Homo sapiens: one gene and its partners. The protein of the gene in region 3 purifies or fractionates together with the protein of the main gene of each other region. This does not show direct contact. Each region holds a gene or a part of one and is shown on either strand. Other genes may lie near its edges.

Region 1 (7,699 bases), on a different chromosome or scaffold from region 3:
TCAGGCCTGGGAACACTGAGCCCACCAAGAATCCTAAATAGTCAACTAAAACCCCTGAAATAGCCAGGCCCGTTACTTTAACCATTTGTATATCTTTAGGGGGTACAAGTACATGGATAAGTACCATGTACTTGTTGTTACATGGATATATTACCCAGTGGTGAAGTCTAGGCTTACCAGAGCAAAAACAGGGTGGTAGATAATCTCCCTTGTGCAATCAACAACTATAACCCGGCAGGTAGGGTGCCTACTATTGATACTGACTACAGAGAGTGTGGACTCCTCTAACCTGATACAGGATATGAAGCCAGTTATCAATTTATTACCTCTCAGCTCCAAATTCACCCTTCAATATATATTCTTTGATAATAGAGGGATTCTTTAAGCATCTCTCCTTTAAAGTAACATCGAAGAGCATAATGTTACACTTACTTAATAGGGGGCTCTGTAGGGACAGACACTGAAAGAGGAAGTGGTACTTCTATGATTTCTGGTTCTCAGAGTTGTGGACGTGAGGACATTCAAGAAGCTTTGTCTCAGGCCTGGGCCCAGAACAACTGTCTCTCAGCAAACCTGCAGTCCTGCTGTGCCCTAATGATCAGCTTCTTGTGGCCTTCTTGATAGGGACATGCTGTTCTCCAAGTCATCTGCCTACTGCTTCTCTCTGCTCACTTGCTCCACAGCCACACACACACACACACACACACACACACACACACACACACGACCAGGTTCATGTAGTCCTGTCAATACTGCAGCCATCTCAACACTGAGACCCCACCCTAATCCTGTGCATGGAGCATTGTTTACTCCAGGCCTCCAACTGAGCCAGGCCCCCCAACCCCTACTTCACACCCACTTACTAGCCACCAGCTATTGCTTGTCCACACTACCGTGCTTCAAAGGGGGGCTTCTTGCTTCCTCTGTGATCGTAGACCAGTTCTAGCTCTGCAGACCAGCTCAGGTACTGGCAAACCAGTGGAACTTCTCTGCCATCCAGTGGGTTCTTCTCCAATTAGGTATGAAATCCAGCCTTGGGGAGAAGCTTTCATTCTAAGTTTGTCTTTCCTTGGATACTCTCCCCCAGTCCCAGAAAACCCCATATAGAGTTGTCTTGTATTCTATATAAGATATTTTATCATAGTTTAATGATTCTTTATATTAAACCTTCTCTTTCTAGATCACTGTGTGCTTTCTATCTCTGGATTGAATCTATATTGCTACAGAACACAACATCTACAGCAAGCATCATTCTTAATGGAGAATCACTGAAAGCTTTCTCTTTAAGAGCTTCATCAAGTAAGGATGTCCACTATCACCACTTCTATTCAATAGTTTACTGGGGGTGGTGATGGGGTCCCAGACAGAGCAGTAGAGCAAGAAAAAGAAATAAGATATTTGGAAAGGAAGAAGAAAGACTGGCACTATTTACAGATGATATGACAGTGTACATAAAATTCCACAAAGTATTACAGACAAATTATTAGAATCAATAGAAGAGTTTATACGCTTGTAGGATAAAATCTTAATGAACAAAAGTCAATTGCATCCTATTTATTTACCAGAAACAAATTTAGACAGTAAAAATTCCAAACAGGATTTGCACAATATGAAGTGCCTAGGACAAAAAAGTTGCCTTTTGGGAAAAATATAAAGTATTACTTGGGCACATTAAAGGAGACCTTATTAAAAGGAGAGACAGACCAAAGCCATGAACCAAACTTTCAATATTGAGAAGTCAAATCTAAAATATCAGCACAATATGAATTAGAACCCCAAACTAGCTGTTGGTTGAAGTTTTTATGATGAGTTTATAATTTAAATGGAATTGAAATGGGCCAAAAGTAGCCAAGACACTTTTGAAGAAAGATGTAGAATTTACTGCCTTATCCAAATATCAGAATTGACTATGGATCTGTAGTAATTAAGACAGTGTGATATTTCAAACAAATAGGGCCGAGCACTTAATAGCGAGTATAGGAACTAGCCCACATATGGGTAGATACTTGATTTATGGCACTGTAAATCAGTTGGCAAAAGGCAGACTTTTCAATAAGTGGTTCACTGAGAAAACTGGATATTCAAACAAATAAATAAATAAATAAATAAATGGAACCCCACTCAACACAATATACAAACATCAATTGCAGGTGGATTAAGACCTGACTGTGAAGGGCAATAGCATACGTATTTTGGAAGAAAATATAGAAAACGCTTTCATGGCCCAGGGTTTCTTAAAACAGAAAAGATTTCTTAAAACAGATTTCTTAAAACAAAAACACACTAACCATCAGGAAAAGAATGATGAATTTGACTATATTATAATTAAGATCTTCTGTTCACAAAACACAGCACAAAGCAATGGGAAATACAAACAGAACAAGGGAATATTTTGGCCACAGGTATGGACTAGTATTTAAAATATTTAACAGGCTCATTAAGTCAGTAAGTACTAGATGAACAATAGAATAGAAACATGGGTTAAAAGAGGTAAATTTGAATAGGCCTTCTTCGGAGTAGACACTCCAAAAGGCTCATAAACACGAAAATGTGCTAAAGCTTACTAGTAATTTGGGTATTGCCCACCAGTAGACTGGCAAAATTTAAATTCTGGCAATACTTGGTGTGGGTGAAGATGTGGAGCAGTAGGGGCTCTCTGTGCTGCTGGTGGGATTGACAGCTTGCCCAATCACTACAGAGAACAATTTGGCATCATCTAGTAAAGCTCAGGATATCCATACCCTATGGCCCTGTGATTCTATTCTTGGATATATACCCTAGAGAGATTTTTACACATGTGTCCCATGAGAAATGTGCAAGAATGTTCATAATAATCGCTGAAAAATAGAAGCAATCCTAATGTTCATCTGCTGTAGAATGGAGTGGTATAATCATACCATAATCACTTTGCTATAAGCATATGCTGGAACGACAGTCGATGGAGACAAAGGATCTACTTACTTATAACTATTATGAACAACATGGATGAGTCTCAAGTATAATACAGAGTGAAAGAAACAAGTTATAAAAGGAAACTTGCCGTATGATTCCATTTATACAACTTCGTATCAACTCTATTGTTTACGGATGCGTACAAAAGTGATAAAGCTATAAAGGAAAGCAGTGAAATGATTATTACAAAGTCAGGGCAATGACTATATTCATATAGGAGAGTGTGGGTTGTGATTGGGAGGAGTACAGCGGCTGTATTCTGGAAGGCTGGCAGTGGTCTATTGCTTGACCTTGGTCCTGGTTACACAGGTGTCTGCTTTTGTAAAATAATCTAAACGATACAAATATGTTTTATGCACTCTTCTATACCTCAGATTTGAAAAATGCTTCCACCAGAAAAAGTAATAGAAAGAAAAGTATGTGGAGTAGACATTTTGATGAGGTTCAAATAGTTATGGATGAATAGCTTGATTTTCAAGAGACCAAGTGTCCACTGTCATTAAAAGAGGGCGAGAGAGCTGGGAGTATTTAAACAACAGGTTACACCCCGCTCCCCCACCACCACCAATCTAGTCATTACTCTAAGCTTTCTTATCTCAGATATTTCACCCTATATTTGTGTCAATTCCCAACTCAGTCGTAACGGACAAAATGAAGGATTGTCATCATCATTAATAAGATCATTAGGCACCACAGGCCCAGCAAGCCTGGGCCACCACACTTAAATGTGAACAGGTACACCAGGTTGATTGGACAAGATCGTCTGTGCCTTTTACTTGGCAGAATCCATTGCAGTGACTCAGGATTTAACCTAAACACATTTAACTGAAACTCCTGCCCAGAGACCTCCACGTGCTGGAGAAGGCAGAGTAAACTGAGGAATGAATGCCCTCATTGTGCTGTGAGAGCAGACATGAAATTTATCACAGTACAACCGATGGTGGAAGGGCAAAAGTTGGTTTAGGTTGTGCACTGTATAGGGAGAAGCCAGGAGAAGGTTGGGTTTTTTCCAGATTTCAGTGTAAATTGTTTCATCCTCCAGACTTTGAATTTCTAGGCTGAAGAGTGCTAACCTGTTTTGGCCGCATCTCTCACTCATTCTAATGTCTGTATCAGCAAGACAAAATTTGAACTATGCGGCAAATTGTACCGAAGACTTTGCTCAAGATAATTGTGAATATGGAAGTTGTCCCGCGGGGAGGTGGGAAGGGGAAGGACATTTTCAGCAGAACTGCCAGCGCTATGGTGGTTTAATGCTGACACAGAGACAGTTTTTTCTCTCAGGAATTGTCTTTCATCCATCAGTCCAGCCAGCCAGCCAGCCAGCAAATTTTAACACACAGAAAGTACGAAGCAACATATCTAACACTGGGAGGGGCTGGGGTGTGTTTATTTGGGTATATACAATGAGTCATGGATTAAAATTGCTTCCAGCGGATAGATACCTAGGTGTTCCACAGCATTACTGAACAAGCTGTCGTCATTTCCCCATTACCTCAGAAGACCCCCTTAATTACTTACTTATATTAACTGTAGAACGTATTTATGCATACCAGGCTCTACCTCTGGGCTTTCTATTCTGTTCCAGAGACCCAGTACCAGAATATTTAAATCACTGTGGCGTTAAATACGTTTTAATATCTGATAGGGCCAGTTTCTGCGCATTGCACATTTTTTTTTCCCCTTTCAGGAACGTGTTCAGGCCCGCGGCAGGGGGCGGGATCGCGCCTCCTCCTCGGCTCTGGTTCCAGCCGAGCCTCTCGGACGCAGAGATGGAAATCCCGAAGCTGCTCCCGGCTCGCGGGACACTACAGGGCGGCGGCGGCGGCGGTATCCCCGCGGGTGGCGGCCGAGTCCACCGAGGCCCTGACTCGCCGGCTGGCCAGGTCCCCACGCGCCGCCTCCTGCTGCTCCGGGGCCCCCAAGATGGCGGGCCCGGGCGGCGGCGCGAGGAGGCCAGCACGGCATCACGGGGCCCTGGCCCAAGCCTGTTGGCGCCGAGGACCGATCAACCTAGCGGCGGCGGCGGCGGCGGCGGCGACGACTTCTTCCTGGTGCTGCTTGACCCGGTGGGTGGCGACGTGGAGACCGCGGGCTCCGGTCAGGCCGCAGGGCCTGTGTTGAGGGAGGAGGCCGAGGAGGGCCCGGGGCTCCAGGGGGGCGAGAGCGGCGCGAATCCCGCGGGGCCCACTGCGCTAGGCCCCCGCTGCCTGTCCGCGGTTCCCACTCCGGCCCCGATCTCCGCCCCCGGCCCCGCCGCGGCCTTCGCGGGCACAGTCACTATCCACAACCAGGACCTGCTGTTGCGCTTTGAGAACGGCGTCCTCACCCTGGCCACGCCCCCACCACACGCCTGGGAGCCAGGGGCCGCTCCTGCCCAGCAGCCCGGGTGTCTGATCGCCCCGCAAGCTGGGTTCCCGCATGCCGCGCACCCGGGTGACTGCCCAGAGCTGCCGCCAGACCTCCTGCTAGCTGAGCCGGCCGAACCCGCGCCAGCTCCGGCGCCTGAGGAGGAGGCGGAGGGCCCGGCCGCCGCCCTGGGCCCCCGCGGACCGCTGGGCTCCGGCCCAGGCGTGGTGCTGTACTTGTGCCCCGAGGCGCAGTGCGGGCAAACCTTCGCCAAGAAGCACCAGCTGAAGGTGCACCTGCTGACGCACAGCAGCAGCCAGGGCCAGAGGCCCTTCAAATGCCCCCTGGGTGGCTGCGGCTGGACCTTCACCACCTCTTACAAGCTCAAGAGGCACCTGCAGTCGCACGACAAACTGCGGCCCTTTGGCTGCCCGGCAGAGGGCTGTGGCAAGAGCTTCACCACAGTGTACAACCTCAAGGCGCACATGAAGGGCCATGAGCAGGAGAACTCATTCAAATGCGAGGTGTGCGAGGAGAGCTTCCCCACGCAGGCCAAACTCAGCGCCCACCAGCGCAGCCACTTCGAACCGGAGAGGCCTTACCAGTGCGCGTTTTCTGGCTGCAAGAAGACATTTATCACAGTGAGTGCTCTGTTTTCCCATAACCGCGCCCATTTCAGGGAACAGGAACTGTTTTCCTGCTCTTTTCCTGGCTGCAGCAAACAATATGACAAGGCTTGTAGGCTGAAAATTCACCTGCGGAGTCACACCGGCGAGAGACCTTTCCTTTGTGACTTTGATGGCTGTGGCTGGAACTTCACTAGCATGTCCAAACTCTTAAGGCACAAAAGAAAGCACGACGATGACCGGAGGTTCATGTGCCCTGTGGAAGGCTGTGGGAAATCTTTCACGAGGGCGGAACATCTGAAAGGCCACAGCATAACCCACCTGGGCACAAAGCCTTTCGTGTGTCCTGTGGCAGGCTGCTGTGCCAGGTTCTCTGCTCGCAGTAGCCTCTACATTCACTCCAAGAAACACCTGCAGGATGTGGACACTTGGAAAAGCCGTTGCCCGATCTCCTCTTGTAATAAACTCTTCACATCCAAGCACAGCATGAAGACGCACATGGTTAAAAGGCATAAGGTGGGCCAGGATCTCTTAGCTCAGCTAGAAGCAGCAAATTCTCTCACACCCAGCAGTGAACTTACCAGCCAGAGACAGAATGATCTCAGTGATGCAGAGATAGTGTCTCTCTTCTCTGATGTACCTGACAGTACTTCTGCTGCATTGCTGGACACAGCATTGGTGAACTCTGGAATCTTGACTATTGATGTGGCTTCTGTGAGCTCGACTCTGGCAGGGCACCTCCCTGCTAATAATAATAATTCCGTAGGGCAGGCTGTGGACCCTCCGTCCTTGATGGCCACCAGCGACCCTCCTCAAAGTCTGGATACCTCTCTCTTTTTTGGAACGGCGGCCACTGGTTTTCAGCAGAGCTCCTTAAATATGGATGAGGTCTCAAGTGTAAGTGTGGGGCCATTGGGATCTCTGGACTCTTTGGCCATGAAAAACTCCAGTCCAGAGCCTCAGGCTTTGACACCCAGCAGTAAGCTAACAGTGGACACAGATGCTCTGACTCCTTCGAGCACCCTTTGTGAAAACAGTGTCTCAGAACTACTGACACCAACCAAAGCGGAGTGGAACGTACATCCTGACTCTGACTTCTTTGGACAGGAGGGAGAAACCCAGTTTGGATTCCCCAATGCAGCAGGAAACCATGGTTCTCAGAAAGAAACAGATCTTATCACTGTGACTGGCAGCTCATTTTTGGTATGAACCAACTCTATTCATTCCTCATCATGTGGCTTACTTTTATTACAGTCAATTTTGAGGATATTCTGGACTAAATATTTAAGTGCAGTCATTTCTTTTTGGTTTGCAAAAAGAGCACAGCCCTGGACTACAAGTTTGGAGATTTAAATTCTGATCTTGAGTTTGGAACTGACAAGTTGTGTGACCCTGAGCAAGTCAGTTAACCTATCTGAGCCTTAATTTCCTTATTTATAAATTGAGGTGGTTTGAATAGATTGCTTTTAAGGTCTTTCTGCTCTGTGATTCCTTGATAATACATTTCTTTCCTTGAAAAATATGAGGACGTTTTTCAGTGATGTGGCATGCGTTTTTTTTTAACTGCCCCCCCAGCCCTGACATGTTCTTTTTTTGGCAAACATACATAATGTTACATCATACTATGATGAACATCCATGTACTTTTCACTCAATTTCAGCAATTATGAATCCATGAACAATCTTTTTTAACTTAGCCTCACTCACTCCCCATGTTCTAGTATTATTTTGTAACAAATAGCAGACATCTGATCATTTTATCCATAAATATTC
Region 2 (7,111 bases), on a different chromosome or scaffold from region 3:
CATTTCTTATTGCTAATTTAGAGATGGACGCAAATAGGTGGTAAATGCCAAAGGAAAGTCTAGGAGAAGAGTAGAAAACCAGGCTTCATTGTATATATAACCCTGTAAGAAACAGAACTTTGTGTTGAGGTCAATTTTAAGTATGTGCAATAACTAGGTAAGAATTTTTCTAGTGGACAAATTCACAGCACACTCAGAACTACAACCTAAGATTATATTTTATAGCAATAGCTTCATTAATGAGTGGAGGGAAATTTCTTTTTATTGGAAGTAATGGTCTGATTTAATGACTGAAACAAGCTAACATGTGTCTCAGCTTTTTCTGATTTTGACTGCTTTCTTCTGTAACAGAAAACACATTTCCTTGTGGCACCTTTTAGAAAACACTGAGTTATTCAACAGATCATTTGTGTGTGTGTTTGTGTGTGTGTGTATAGTTATTTCTTAAGAAATAATTTTGGATGTTTAGAAATTTCAAAAATAAGAGATTCTCATATAGCTTTCACCCAGTTTCCCCCATTGATAGTGTCTTAACTAGTCCAATGATTACCTCTTAAGTAGTCTGTGGTATAATTTTCAAAATCAGGGTATTAACACCAACAGATACTTTTTAAGGACTGAAGTATATCTAGTTGGTATTTAAGGTATTTAAGCATCTGCTTCACACTTTATTTGAAAGATGTATGTGTTTCTTTTAGGACTGACTCCAATAGATTTTGAGGCTGAGGTTTATATGTAGCTGAAAGCTTTAAAAAATATATAATCACTTTAAATGTAGTATCTTACTTAATTCTAACAGCCCTGCATAACAGGCAGCCCCTTAGTATTCCTCCCATTTTGCAGGCTCAGAAAAGTTAAGCTCAAGATTATCCCTCAGTTCTCATTGTCTAGGACTAAAATCTAGGTCTTCTCAGTTGGGTCCAGTTATTCTGTTAACCCGTTGTCTACTTGTTGCATACTGCTTGTTGTTGCATTTTCTAACAATGGAAACAGTCTTTGCCGACATGAGTATCTAGTAGTTATTTGATATTATAGTGAATGAGCAGGGAGGTTAGATTACTCATCTCTCAGTAGTTCATCTGCCATCTCCAGGTGTTAAAAGTTTTTCTGAGATTAAAGATCAAGGCTTTTTAGTGTTACAGTTACCATGTTTTTTCTAAACTCAACACCTTAGATATTCAAGATGATACTCTTCCTGTCCTGTTTTTGTAAGAAATTAATATACTTGTCAGATTCCTGTGTATTGCAAGCTGGAGACTGTAGATAAGGGCAAGTCACTTAACCTATCTGACCCAGCTTGCTTATCTACAAAATAGAGATTAAAACCTCTGTTCTCATCCTTCCTGGGAGTCAGCATTAGGATTAATTAAATCCATATTTCCCAGGCTCTTAACTTACCATGGCACGCATTTTTTGTTTTACCTGGCTACTAGTGAAAATGTACAAAGATAGAAGGATATCTAGTAGAAGGAAGGTGGATAGGATTTTCAAAACAATATATTTGGCCCTGAAAAAAAACTATGTGTTGGTGTTGTGTGTGTTGTTTTGTTTTGAGGAGGAATGGGCAGGGAGAAAGTCGGTTTACAAGTGAAGAGAAAGCGTAGAAAAACAGTGGATGTTAGTTTCTCAGCTATTTTGACAAAAGGGATGTAGAGAGCAGTATTGGGAGGAACATTTAGATTAGTACTAATGTGTCCTAATACATACTGATGGGGAAATTTTGAATTGGGTTTTTTGAAAACTGTAGCTCTTTTGTCCAACACAGTAGCTGCTAGCCACATGTTACCTGTTGAGCACTTGAAATATGACTAGTCTGCATTGAGATGATGTGCTATGTGAAATATATGCTACAGTTTGAAGAGTTAGTATGAAAAAAAGAATATAAAATATCTTCATTTTTTTTGTTGGTTTTTTTTTTTTTTTAAGAGAGAGTCTTGCTGTGTCACCCAGGCTGGAATGCAGTGGCACTGTCATGGCTCAGTGTAGCCTCAACCTCCTGGACTCAAGCAGTCCTCTACCCCAACCTTCCGAGTAGCTGGTACTGCAGGCATGTGCCACCACGCCCAGCTAATTATTATTATTTTTTTTTCATAGAGATGGGCTCTCACTATGTTGCCCAGGCTGGTCTCACACTTCTGGCCTCAAGCAATCCTCCTACTTGGCCTCCCAAAGTGCTGGGATTATAGGTGTGAGCCCCCATGCCCGGCCTCTGTTGGTTTCAAGTCAATATGATACTATATTTGATATATCAGGTTAAATAAAATGTATTATTAAACTGCATTTCACCTGATTCTTTTTAGTAATGTAGTTACTAGGAAGTTTTAAATTATATATGTGACTCACATTTGAGGCTGTCATTATATTTTCATTGGATAGTCAACAGAGCTGCTCCTATAGCTACTAGGTTGTCTAGTTATTTTCTAATTATTTGTGTGCCAAGATCTTGATGCCTTTGGTCTTTGGAGCAATCTTGGCAGTACCCCGAGCCCCTGGGCCAGTAGCCTCTCTCGCTGCAAGCAGCTCTGTTTACTCCAGTGTGCCCTACAAATACTATTATTTGCTAGGTGTATGGGATGTGGGCATTGAACTTTAGATCATCAAGTGTAGTACTTTAAACATTTAGAAATTACTTACTGTTATTGCCTATTAAAATAATCTTACTTTTTTGATGGGAGAGTATGGAGTGGCATGGATGATTATTTATATTTTCAGGCTATTTATACTCTGAAAGATACTAAGTACTTTAGAAAAAGTCACATTTTTAACATTTATTAAAATCTTAGTTACAAAAGATTTCTTAGGCATCCTTTAAAAAATTTCATTTTTAGAATTGTTCGTACTGTCTCTGCAACTTTTCTGAAAACATAAAAGTTCTGTATACTTTTCATCTAGTTTCTGTTATCAACATGAAGAATCTGCTTTTAATCTAATTTTGTATAGCATATCAAAAGTTTACACTTTATTGAGTTATTTTGCTCAAAAGAAATCCCCAGATTTTACATTATGGTAACTGACTCAGTTTTTAGAAATGTGAATTTTGTTATTGACCTATATACCAGAAAGACACTTATTGCATACCTGAAATTCAGTAACCTAAACTGTTTGCTAAGATGTTCCATATACATGGTCACAAAGTTTACATATTCTCGACATAATTGAAACATGTTGATTAATTACTTCTGCCTTTTTTTACTTCATAGATGTAAAGAACCTATATCCATCATCATCTCCTTATACAAGAAATTGGGATAAATTGGTTGGTGAGATCAAAGAAGAAGAAAAGAATGAAAAGTTGGAGGGAGATGCAGCTTTAAACAGATTATTTCAGCAGATCTATTCAGATGGTTCTGATGAAGTGAAACGTGCCATGAACAAATCCTTTGTAAGAATATAAACTTAAAGAAATATATATGGGAGCAAATTTTACATATTTTAAACGAGAAAATTGGTAATGTGAGACCAAATTGCGTGTACTATAGCTGGGAGAACTTTTTGAATAAGGTCTGTCTGAACGTTTCTTTTTGCTCTAAGAGTAATTTTTGAGGAAGTTGAAAACTTATGGAAGAGATGAGAAACAAGTGGTTTATCTTAAATAGGTATTTTTTATCAGTGAGTTAGATTGATATGGAGTCATCTCACTTGGATTTATCCCAGTAGCTGAGTGAACTTCTGTTGTTTCCCTTCTAGACTCATATGTAGCCTCAGTGTTAGAGATGAAGAATATAGATACGAAACTTTTCAGAATAGTGTTTGCAAGTAGAAGGTGCACGTTATTCATTGGTTTAACAACTCTCTTGATTAAGAAAATTCAGGCTTTTTGTCAGGGCAGCATAAATACCTAAATTAGACCTCAAAATTTTAGTAATAATTCGTCATTGTATATTTAGCTTGCAGTTGTAATCATGTGACTTTTATTAATACCAGTAGCTCTGGAAATATGACTCTTTTAAGACATATTTACAGTAGAAAGTTAAAATTAGTATTTTAATTTAATATTTAGTTAATGTGGTTGAGGCTTAGGTATTTCACACTTAAGAAATCTGTGGTAATTGGTCATGATTGTGCTTTTCACAGTTTATTTATTTAGAGACAAGGTCTCACTCTGTTGCCCAGGCTTGAGTACAGTGGCGTGATCTCGGCTCACTGCAGCCTCTGTCTGCCGGGCTCAAGTGATTTTCCTACCTCAGCCTCTGCAGTAGCTGGGACTATAGACATGCACCACCACGCCTGGCTACTTTATTTCTTGTAGAGGTGGGGTTGCGCCACGTTGCCCAGGCTGGTCTCGAACTCCTGGCTTCAAGCAATCTAGCCGCCTCAGCCTCCCAAAGTGCTGGGATTACAGGCGTGAGGCACCTCAACCAGCCTCACTATTGATTAAAAAATTTTTTTTCATCACTTTTGGGAGACTGAGGTGGGAGGATCACTTGAGCTAAAGATCTTGAGATTAGCCTGGGCAACATAGAGAGACCCTATCTCTACAAAAAAAAAAAAAAAATTAGCTAGGCCTGGTGGCATGTGTCTGTGGTCTTAGCTACTTGGGAAGGTGAGGTGGGAGGATCTCTTGAGCCTGGGTGGTCAAGGTTGCAGTGAGCTGTTTTTTTGTGCCACTGAACTACAGCCTGGGCAACAGAGACCCTGTCTCAAAAAAAAAAAAAAAGTCTTCATTAAACTTTTAGTTTTGAGATAATTGTAGATTGACATGCAATCCTAAGAAATGAGATTCTTTGTACCTTTTACAAAGTTTCCATTGATGGAAACATTTTGTCAAAACTATGCTACAACATCACAACCATGATACTGACAGTTAAGATAGGGAACCTTTAATCCCAGTGCTTTGGGAGTCTGAGGCCACAGGATCCCTTGAGGCTAGACCAGCCTGGACAATATGGTAAGTTCTGGTCTCTACAAGAAATTTAAAAGCTACCTTGGCATGATGTTGTGCCCCTGTCAGCTCAGGCGTCTGCGGCAAGAGTATTGTTTGAGCCCAGGAGTTCAAGGTTGCAGTGAGCTATGATCGTGCCACTACACTTAGCTTGGGCAGCAAAGTGAGACCCTATCTCTTTAAAAAAAAAAAAAAGAGAGAGAGAGAGATAGAACATTTTCATGGATTCCAAGGATCCCTTATGTTGCTATCTTATGGCCATACTAACCCCACCCCCACCCTTCCATGATCCCTGATGATCACAAATCTGGCAATCTTTGTCAGATATGTAGTTTACACATATTTTCTCCCAGTATGTAGTTTTCATTTTCTTAATAGGGTCTTTCATAGAACCAAAATATTTCATTTTGATTAAGTCTAATTTACCGCTTTTTATGGATCATGCTTTTAGTTTCAGGTCTTATTAACTCTTTGCCTAGTCCTAGATCTCAAAGACTCTCTCCTATTTAAAAAATAAATAAAAGTAATATTGTTTTACATATTACATTTATTTTTTATTTAGAGACAGGGTCTCATTCTGTCACCCAGGCTGAAGTACAGTGGCACAGTCACAGTTCACTGTAACCTCAAAGTCCTGGGCTCAAGTGATCCTTATGCCTCAGCCTCCCAAGTAGATGGGACTACACATCCATGCTGCCATGCCTGGCTAATTTTTAAAATTTTTTGTAGAGGTGGGGGTGTCTCCGTATTGCTTAGGGTGGTCTCGAACTTCTGACCTCAAGCAGTCCTTCGGCCTTGGCTTCCTGAAGTGCTAGAGTTACAGGCGTGAGCCACAGCACCTGGCCTACATATTACATTTAAGTCTGTGATGCATTTTGAATTTTTATGTCAAGTGTGAGATTTAACTTGAGGTTCCTTTTTGTGGGGTGGATAGTATGTTCGGGTGTTCTGGCACCTATCTTTTCTCATTGAATTGCTTTTGCACCTTTCTTAAAAATCAGTTGAGCGTATTTGTGTGAGTCTATTTCTAAGTTCCCCACTGTGTTAGATTGAGCTGTATGTGATCTATATGTATGTTCCTCTGTCAGTCCCACTGTCTTAAGCTGTAGCTGTTTAAGTCTGAAATTGGGCAGACTCATTCCTCCTACTTTATCCTTTATTTTCACAATTGTTTTTAGATATTCTAACTCATTTGTCTTTCCATGTAAATTTTAGAATAAAGTGATTATATATAATTTTGGTGTTCATTACTAGAATCTAGACATACAGTTAATTTTATGTTTATCTTGTATTCTGTGACATTGCTGGACTCAGTTCTAGGAGTATTTTTGGATAGATTGTCATTTTTTTAATGTGGACAATCATCTTCAAATATGGAGGTTTTATTTATCTGCAGATACGGAGAGTTTTATTTCTCCCTTTTCTATCTGTATGCCTTTTATCTCCTTTTCTTGCTATATTTCACTGGCTGCAACTTCCGCACTGTGTTGAATAAGAGTAGTGAGAGTGGACATCCTTGCCTTGTTTCCCATTTTAAGGGAAAAGTATCTGTTGTTTCATCATTAAGTATAATGTTAACTGTAAATTTTTGGTAGATGATCTTTGTCAAGTTATGAAAGTTCTGTTGTATTCCTATTTTTCTGAAATTTTTTTATCATTAACTTTCAATATTAACTTTTTGTCAGATGTTTTGTCTGTGTTGATTGATAGGATTATATGATTTTTCTTCCTTAGCCTGTTAATATGGTGATTTTATATGATTAATATGATTGATTTTCAAGTATTGAGACAGTCTTGCATGAGCCCTACTTTGTCATATAGTGTATCTCTTAATTCTATCTTCTAATGTTTTGTTATGGGTTATTGTGTCTATATTCATGAGGAATATGAGTCTAATTTTCTTTTTGTGCTATCTTTGGTTTGGCATCAGAGTAATACTTCATAAAATGAATTAGGAAGCATTGCATCCTCTTCTGTTTTTTAGAAGATATTGTGTATAATTGGTGTTAACTTTTCTTAAGTATTTGGTAGAACTCACCAGTGAAACGGTCTGGGCCTGGAGATTTCTTTATTAGGAGATTTACAGTTATGAATTTAGTTAACCTAAAAGTTTTTATAGGACTGTTCCAATTATCTATTTCATATGGGTGACTTGTGGTTTGTTTCTGATAAATTTATCCATTTTGTCCAAGTTGTCAGTGTTTGTATAGTCCCTTATTCTTTTTGTTT
Region 3 (7,111 bases):
TCTTATTCATTCCAGGAGTCCTTTATATCTTCCCAATACCCAGTATCTGTATTGCAAACAGCTTCTCCCATTCTGTAGCTTGGTTTTTCACTCTCTCTCTCTCTTTTTTTTTTGAGACAGAGTCTCACTCTCTCACCCAGGCTGGAGTGCAGTGGTGCGATCTAGGCTCACTGCATGCTCTGCCTCCCAGGTTCACGCCATTCTCCTGCCTCAGCCTCCCGAGTAGCTGGGACTACAGGTGCCCGCCACCACGACGGGCTAATTTTTTGTATTTTTAAGTAGAGACGGGGTTTCACCACGTTAGCCAGGATGGTCTCGATCTGCTGACCTCATGATCCGCCCGCCTCGGCCTCCCAAAGTGCTGGGATTACAGGCGTGGGCCACTGCGCCCGGCCGGTTTTTCACTCTCTCAATCATGCCTTTTGATGGACAAAAAAAAAAAAATTTTAATTTTAATTTGGTACAATTTATCAATATTTTCTTTATGGTAAATGCTTTTTGGTGTCCTGTTTAAGATGTCTTTGTGTACTCAAGGTCAACAAGACATTCTTCTAAGTTATTTTTTTAAATTTCATTTCAAAATTGTTCTCATCTGAATCTATGACCCATCTAGAATAAATTTTTGTGTGAGGTATGTTGACTTCTTGAGTAAAATACAAGGCAGGGTCACCCTTAAAAACTGATTAGAGAAGAAAAGTCTCTGTTTTTCTTTTAGGACCTTTATACAAACTCAGCTTTTAGCACCTCTCTACAGGTCTTCTCTCTAGTGAATACACCAGTAGCCTTCTTTTCGTTTTTGACTTTTATCTTGTTAACTATCGCCATCAATCAAAATACTGTTGGTTTTAAGGGGTTGTTTCATCCCACTGGCTAAATGTAATAAAGTACACTTATACCACACTTGACTGACAAAATGTCTAGAAATGTAGTGTTTACTCTTCATTATATTTCAACAGTATTAACTATAATGTCTGTTTGTTAACAATGGTACTTGATGACTTTCCATTTTATTTTAGAGAGCCAAAGTTAAGTTTTTGGTTTCCAACTATTAATCATCCATTTTGCTAAACCACTATTTTTTTTCTGCAATGAGATGTTTAACACAAAGCACATTCTGTTACGTATTATTTATCTATAGTTAAGTATACACAGAACAACTTTTTTCTTTTAAATATCATCATCTGATGGGTAAATCAATATCCAAGTAATATGTATAAAAGTATTTTTTATATTATAAAGTATTATGTGATAGAGATTAACATTATTAATGCCTAAATTTTTTTTGGAAGCCTCGGCTGTACAAGTTGTAAAACATCACCAAAGAACGCTAGAAATCCCTGTTAACATTTCTAAGAAAGATTCCATACATAAGAGGAGGTATTATTAGCTACATAAAAGTCAAAACAAGCCAGAAAACATGTCTTATCACTCTACTGTCTATTTTAAGAAAGTTTAATGTGCACCAAAAGAAAATGAATACTAGCTATGCTCATGGTTACTTACTGTCCATCAAATACAACAAAGAAAGCAGTTACTGACGAGCATTTTCTTTTTAAAGACTTGCCAGGGAAGTTAAATAAAAGCTTAATGATTATTTTAAGTTGATTTTTAAAAAATATTTAGTAATTAAAGAAAATGAATACCTGATCTCCAACTGTCTTCAACAACATGTTGGATAAGACCTCCAAGGAAAGGAACTCGAACCATTTCTAAGTGTTCCAAGTTTCGGGCAGAGGCTAAGCCTGTTACTAAAGGGACATATTTCAAGGAATTTGTGGGTCCTGGAAAAAAAAAAAAATCTTTGATAGAACAATGTAAAGTGCCTTAAAATGAATTTCAAATCAGTGAAAGACATGTATAACTTATAAACTCTAAGTCTTAAAATGACAGCCAAATTGGCTCTCTGAAATCAGGTTCTTGTTACAAATGAAAGTGTTAGCCTATTAACCATACACTTACTCAGCATAAAGGTTTTTCAGTAACACTGTAGAGATATGTAGTATTCCGTAAATTCTCTAAAGGCTCAATAGTTTTGAACTCAAACTAACTAATGGGAAAAAGTCAAGATAAAAATTTGATCCTTCACTCAAGTAAACAGCTCAATCATTTAATCATCTCTATGACCAGTGTTGCATTAGCTACTATAGAAGATCACAAAAGATATGGTCCTGTCCATCAAAAAACCTGCAGTTGACATGGAGCTAGAACTAACATAAGTAATTATAGAAGGATAAGAAGGCAGACTGCATCAAGTGTAAAAATAAGATCTGCCATACTCCATGAAAAAGAAAAAGAAAGAGGAGAAAAGTAAGTTGGAAAAGGCAGAACCTGAAGAACGCATACAAAAACAGAGGAAGAAAGTGCACATCTCAGGATAACGAAACAATAATACAGCATAAGAGAAGACATTGAGATGGAAAGCTGTATGGCTGACCAGGGAACAATGAATAGTCAAATGTGATGATAAAAGAAGATATATCTTGGAAAGGTGTCAGAATAAGGTTATCAAGAGGGGTCCTGGTTATCATGACCTTAAGCAGAGTAGTTCCCACTTAATGCTCTAGTGCAGCGGTGTCCAATATTTTGACATCACTGGGCCACACTGGAAGAGGAAAAATTGCCTTGGGCCACATTGGAAGAGGAAAAATTGTCTTGATATTAAAGATAGCTGATGAGCAGGAAAGAAAAAGAAGAAGAAGAAGAAAAAGCCTATGCATAAATCTCATAATGTTTTAAGAAAGTTTAAGAATTTGTATTGGGCATCATGTGGGCTGTGGCCAGTGGACCGTGGGTTGAACAAGCTTGCTCTAGGGCAACAGGGACACTAAAGATTTCTGTTTAGAAGGATAATACCATAAAAGCTATGTTTAAGGGAGATTAAGGAAGCCAACTATTTACATGCAGAATGATTCGGAGACCAGAAACAAAGTAAGAAGACTGAAATTTAATAAAACAATCCTAGGAAAAGTAAAAAGTACCCGTAAAAAATAGAGATATTCTGAGTTTTGTTTTTTTTTTTTTGCTGAGGTCAAACACAAATCATCTTTCTAATGTCTTTAAAACAAAAAGTACATTTATCTTCACAAGATGAATATGTTATAAGACATAAATAGTAATAGCATAATATAATTGTATTTACAAATGTAGCTAGAGTTTGCTTCAGGATATTTTTAGAATAACTTATGTTTAATTCCACCATAATTGTGTACCATTACCTGCACAGTTCCTCATGACGAAAGTTCTTAAGCTGATACAAAGGAAGTCTTTAAATGGCTGTGGTTTAGTGAGTCTTACCCACTTCATATAAAGGTGCCTTAGCATTGGGATACAAGGAATTTCAGGAACATTCACCCCTAAAACACAAATATAAAAAAGAACAAACAAGAAAAAAATCACAAAAATATACTATATTTTGCTTATAAGTTCAAGAGTCTATTTTTCATATTAACAGCTTAACCTTCAAGGATTTTTATCCGAACAAATTATACAAAATCTATCAAGTTTGCCTTATTTAAAACAGGCTTACAAAGAACAGTTTACGTAAACCATAAACTGACTTAACTTTTTTAGGAAAGGCCAATGGGAAGATAGAGTTTAAAAAGTATTTCTATGTCTTAGACATGTAAGTCTTTCTCATAATCTTACAACTCTTCTAGGATACGTTTTCCCAGAAGAGGTAAAGTGAAAATGGATTACTGAAAGCAAAACTATAACGATGGAGATGGAACACACAAATTTACTATTTGACTACCAACATCCACTGCCCCCTAGTAGGAGAACTATATTTCTCAGAGCAAAGTCAGCTAGATGGGTTTAAATATGCAAATAGATATCTGGAAGATAGCCAAACACAGAACTTTAAAAGCTGTTTTCTATAAATATATGAATCTTAAGAATTTGTAAATGTGTGGGAGAAGCCAGCCAGCATGGCTCTGAGAAAAGCAGAAACCTGCCAGTCATTTATTTTAGAATTTCAAATTGGTAAAGGTAATTTGATGCATGGGATCCAGGAGTGGCTTAATACTAGGAATCATATCCACAGAGGACCATGACCAGAAGAAGGGAGGTGTAGCGTGAGGTGAAAAAATACAGGAAATATGGATGAAAGAAGATAAAAGCCAAGGAAGGGACACAAATTTATTAAAGAAATCCAAGGATCCAGGATGATGGCATTTAACAAACAGTAGTTGGCAAAACTGTTTAATGCAATTTTTAAATTTGAGACAATAGGAGCTCTGCTAGCAAGAATAACTAGAGAATGTAAAATTGCAGTACTTGAATGGTCAGTTGTTTATAAAGGCTAAATTCTACCAAATGTTCTTATTGTAACCTACAAGGATTACCCCTTAACTTGTTCCTCTCAAAATAGCAGAGTTAAATTTAGTTTGAACTATGCACACACATTGTATAGCAACAAATGGGAAGTAAAATTAAGGATGAGACAAAAGGACAAAAAGCAGAAGTGAGGTACAGATTGAGATGTAAGATGCAGAAGTCACAAAGGTTAAATTTAGCATATATTGTAATACTATGAAGATGGTAGTACTGATTGTACTGATTAGGAAACCCAAGGAAGAAGGGTGAGACAGATGCAGAGAAGACAGTATACCCCAGGCCCAAACCACTTTCTGTCTCAAACAAACTCTATAAACAAAGGACATAACTGCCCATTCTCCTGGTAATGTTTATTTTTATTAATTTACCACACCTCTGCATCACCATAATACAGTGTTAAACTGTTAAATGATTCCCATAAATTAATGCATTTTAATAAAACTTACCCTGTACTTATATTTGCAATGAACTGTGACAGGCATTGTAGAAAATATAAAGATATGGAAATAAGTCTTTGACCTTAAGGAGCTTATATTATAAATTCCAGATATTACAGAATCCTTTTACATCTAAAAATCCAATTTCAAACTAGATATCACTCCCTGATCTTATAAATGAAGGGTTGCTAGAAATCTTTACTCTTCTCCCATAATTGTGTATCTAAGTCTTATTTAAGACCTACTCCTTATCATTCCTGATGCTCTCCCTGTACCACCTGAGTTTCAGAAATTTCCACTTCTTTAGACCATCCCCAATACCTAGAATAATGCTTAAAACACATATACTCTCTCTCTCTCTGTGTATGTGTGTGTATATATACAGAATAAAGTAGTAAACAAATATTAAAGGCCAGCTATATTAACAGGGACCCCCGAATTCCTTTCAGTGGCCTAAGCCAAAGGTGACAAATTTGAGAAAATATTTACACTTTTTACTTAAGTTGAAGTTACTGGTATATAATTTCAAAGAATATTCAGATGGAGAATGTACACTTGTGAAGCAGTATTTCCCTCACACCAGTGGATCTTTAATGGGAAATCGGAATTTTTATACAGATCTTGCAAACATTTATTTTGCAATCATCAATCAACAAAGCCATCTCTAAAATTCTCATTATTCTTTTTCAGTGAATATTCACATTTTATGGCATTTCAAGGAGTTACAAGTGACCCAAGAAACATGTACTCACCAACTAAATGTAAAGTTTGAATTTTGGCTCCTATAGGAATTTTCAGTTTATTTTCAGGAGGAATTGGAAAAGCTCCATTACGATTACGAAATTTCCCCAAAATATGAACATGGGGCATATATGTCCAAATGGATTCTACCAACTCCAAATGAGAAGTTTCCACACCCTAGAAAATAATGCCAAAGCAAGCATAAGAAAAGACTTTAGTTTAGCATCCAAAGCTTTATGTACCACAAGATGCTAAGTACACAATGGAACTTAAAAGTTTGTGACAGATGAGATTTGCATGTGAGTGAACACGTCTATCATTCTTTGGTCTATTATTTCATAAACAGTTGATGCCAAAATGTTCAACCAGGTGCACTCACCACTAAGTTTGGGCATGCCTGCAAAGCTTCTAGGACTCCTGGAATGCTAAAAGCCTCATGGCCCCTTACTCTTCGCCTCTCAAGGTATCGAGGGTGAAGGCCATATAGCTGTTCAACATCTGGCATCTTCTTTAATAGTGTTAGAAAACTGGCATCTGTAAAGCCTGAGAAGTTCAGAAGTATTTAGAGCCAGGTTCATCTTTCTGTTCATTAACATTTACTAGGCACTCGTGATTTTTACCAAAAGTTAAAAAAGACTTCCTCTTCAAATTTCCGTAAAGCTAACACTAAAGCTGAATAAACATAACAGAAAATATACTCCTTTAGTAACAGAGGAAATGAGTCAGAAACTCCACTTAATCTAAGTTAATACTTTATGGAGGAGGCTTTTATTATTGACTTTTTGGTTTTTGTTGCTTTTAAGGCATAGAAATCTTCAACAAAGAACACACTTTTAACCCAGATAACTTGGACCTATTTGGTGGATGGAGTGGGACCACCCACCTGATCACCACCACCCTCCTCCTCCCCCATGGGTACTCTCGTCTGTAAAACCTTCAGGACTCTATAGAACACATAACTAAAAATATAAATAAGATATGATCCTCATCGTTAGGAAGCTCACAGTTCTGACCTAATTCCTATCTCAAATTATTCTATCCATTTTCTAATAATTACTCTGATACTCTGTCATATGTTTAACTATTACTCCCCCGCCATTTTAGACAATTAATTCTTTTGAAAAAGACAGATGCAAGTTAGCTAAGAGAACCAGAGTGATCCAATCTCAGGGTATGCTGTTGATAGGAAGCTATCTATCCAGGAGACCATAGTAGGAATCAACAAGATGGGAACAGAGAGAGGCAGGTTACTTCCACAGCAGGAGCTGTTGGTTAAGTAAGTGGGGAGACAAGTCTCATATAGATCCTATTTTAATCTGTTACAAGGGCTTTTTTATTTTTAATGAAAGTGGTCAGAAAGCCAACTGTCTGCTTATTAATGACAAAGAAAAACATTAACTGTCAAGAACAAAAAGTAGGCCCCAAATATTTAAGTCTTACATACTTTTTTGAAAGTTGTTTTATTTTTAAGTTATCTCATTTAACATGTAAAGTCCAGACATGCTAACTTTAGTGAAGAGTAAGGAGAGACCAGAGATTACTTGGTCTCTAATTATAATAACAGTTCTTATTACTTTCTTGTATAGTAACTTTTAATG

Evidence for each region.
Region 1: the proteins of FBXO38 (region 3) and ZXDB purify together in Homo sapiens (affinity purification with mass spectrometry; 2 studies listed by BioGRID and IntAct, with this or other methods). This does not show direct contact.
Region 2: the proteins of FBXO38 (region 3) and SUGT1 purify together in Homo sapiens (affinity purification with mass spectrometry; 2 studies listed by BioGRID and IntAct, with this or other methods). This does not show direct contact.

The regions. Positions count from the first base shown.
Region 1 is NC_000023.11:57,587,325-57,595,023, forward strand, and holds the start of ZXDB (zinc finger X-linked protein ZXDB), read left to right. Parts: upstream 1-4,686; 5' UTR 4,687-4,724; coding exon 4,725-7,136; 3' UTR 7,137-7,699. UniProt on the Homo sapiens protein: Cooperates with CIITA to promote transcription of MHC class I and MHC class II genes.
Region 2 is NC_000013.11:52,676,774-52,683,884, forward strand, and holds part of SUGT1 (protein SGT1 homolog), read left to right. Parts: intron 1-3,200; coding exon 3,201-3,382; intron 3,383-7,111. UniProt on the Homo sapiens protein: May play a role in ubiquitination and subsequent proteasomal degradation of target proteins.
Region 3 is NC_000005.10:148,400,927-148,408,037, reverse strand, and holds part of FBXO38 (F-box only protein 38), read right to left. Parts: intron 6,057-7,111; coding exon 5,893-6,056; intron 5,691-5,892; coding exon 5,525-5,690; intron 3,354-5,524; coding exon 3,216-3,353; intron 1,782-3,215; coding exon 1,644-1,781; intron 1-1,643. UniProt on the Homo sapiens protein: Substrate recognition component of a SCF (SKP1-CUL1-F-box protein) E3 ubiquitin-protein ligase complex which mediates the ubiquitination and subsequent proteasomal degradation of PDCD1/PD-1, thereby regulating T-cells-mediated immunity.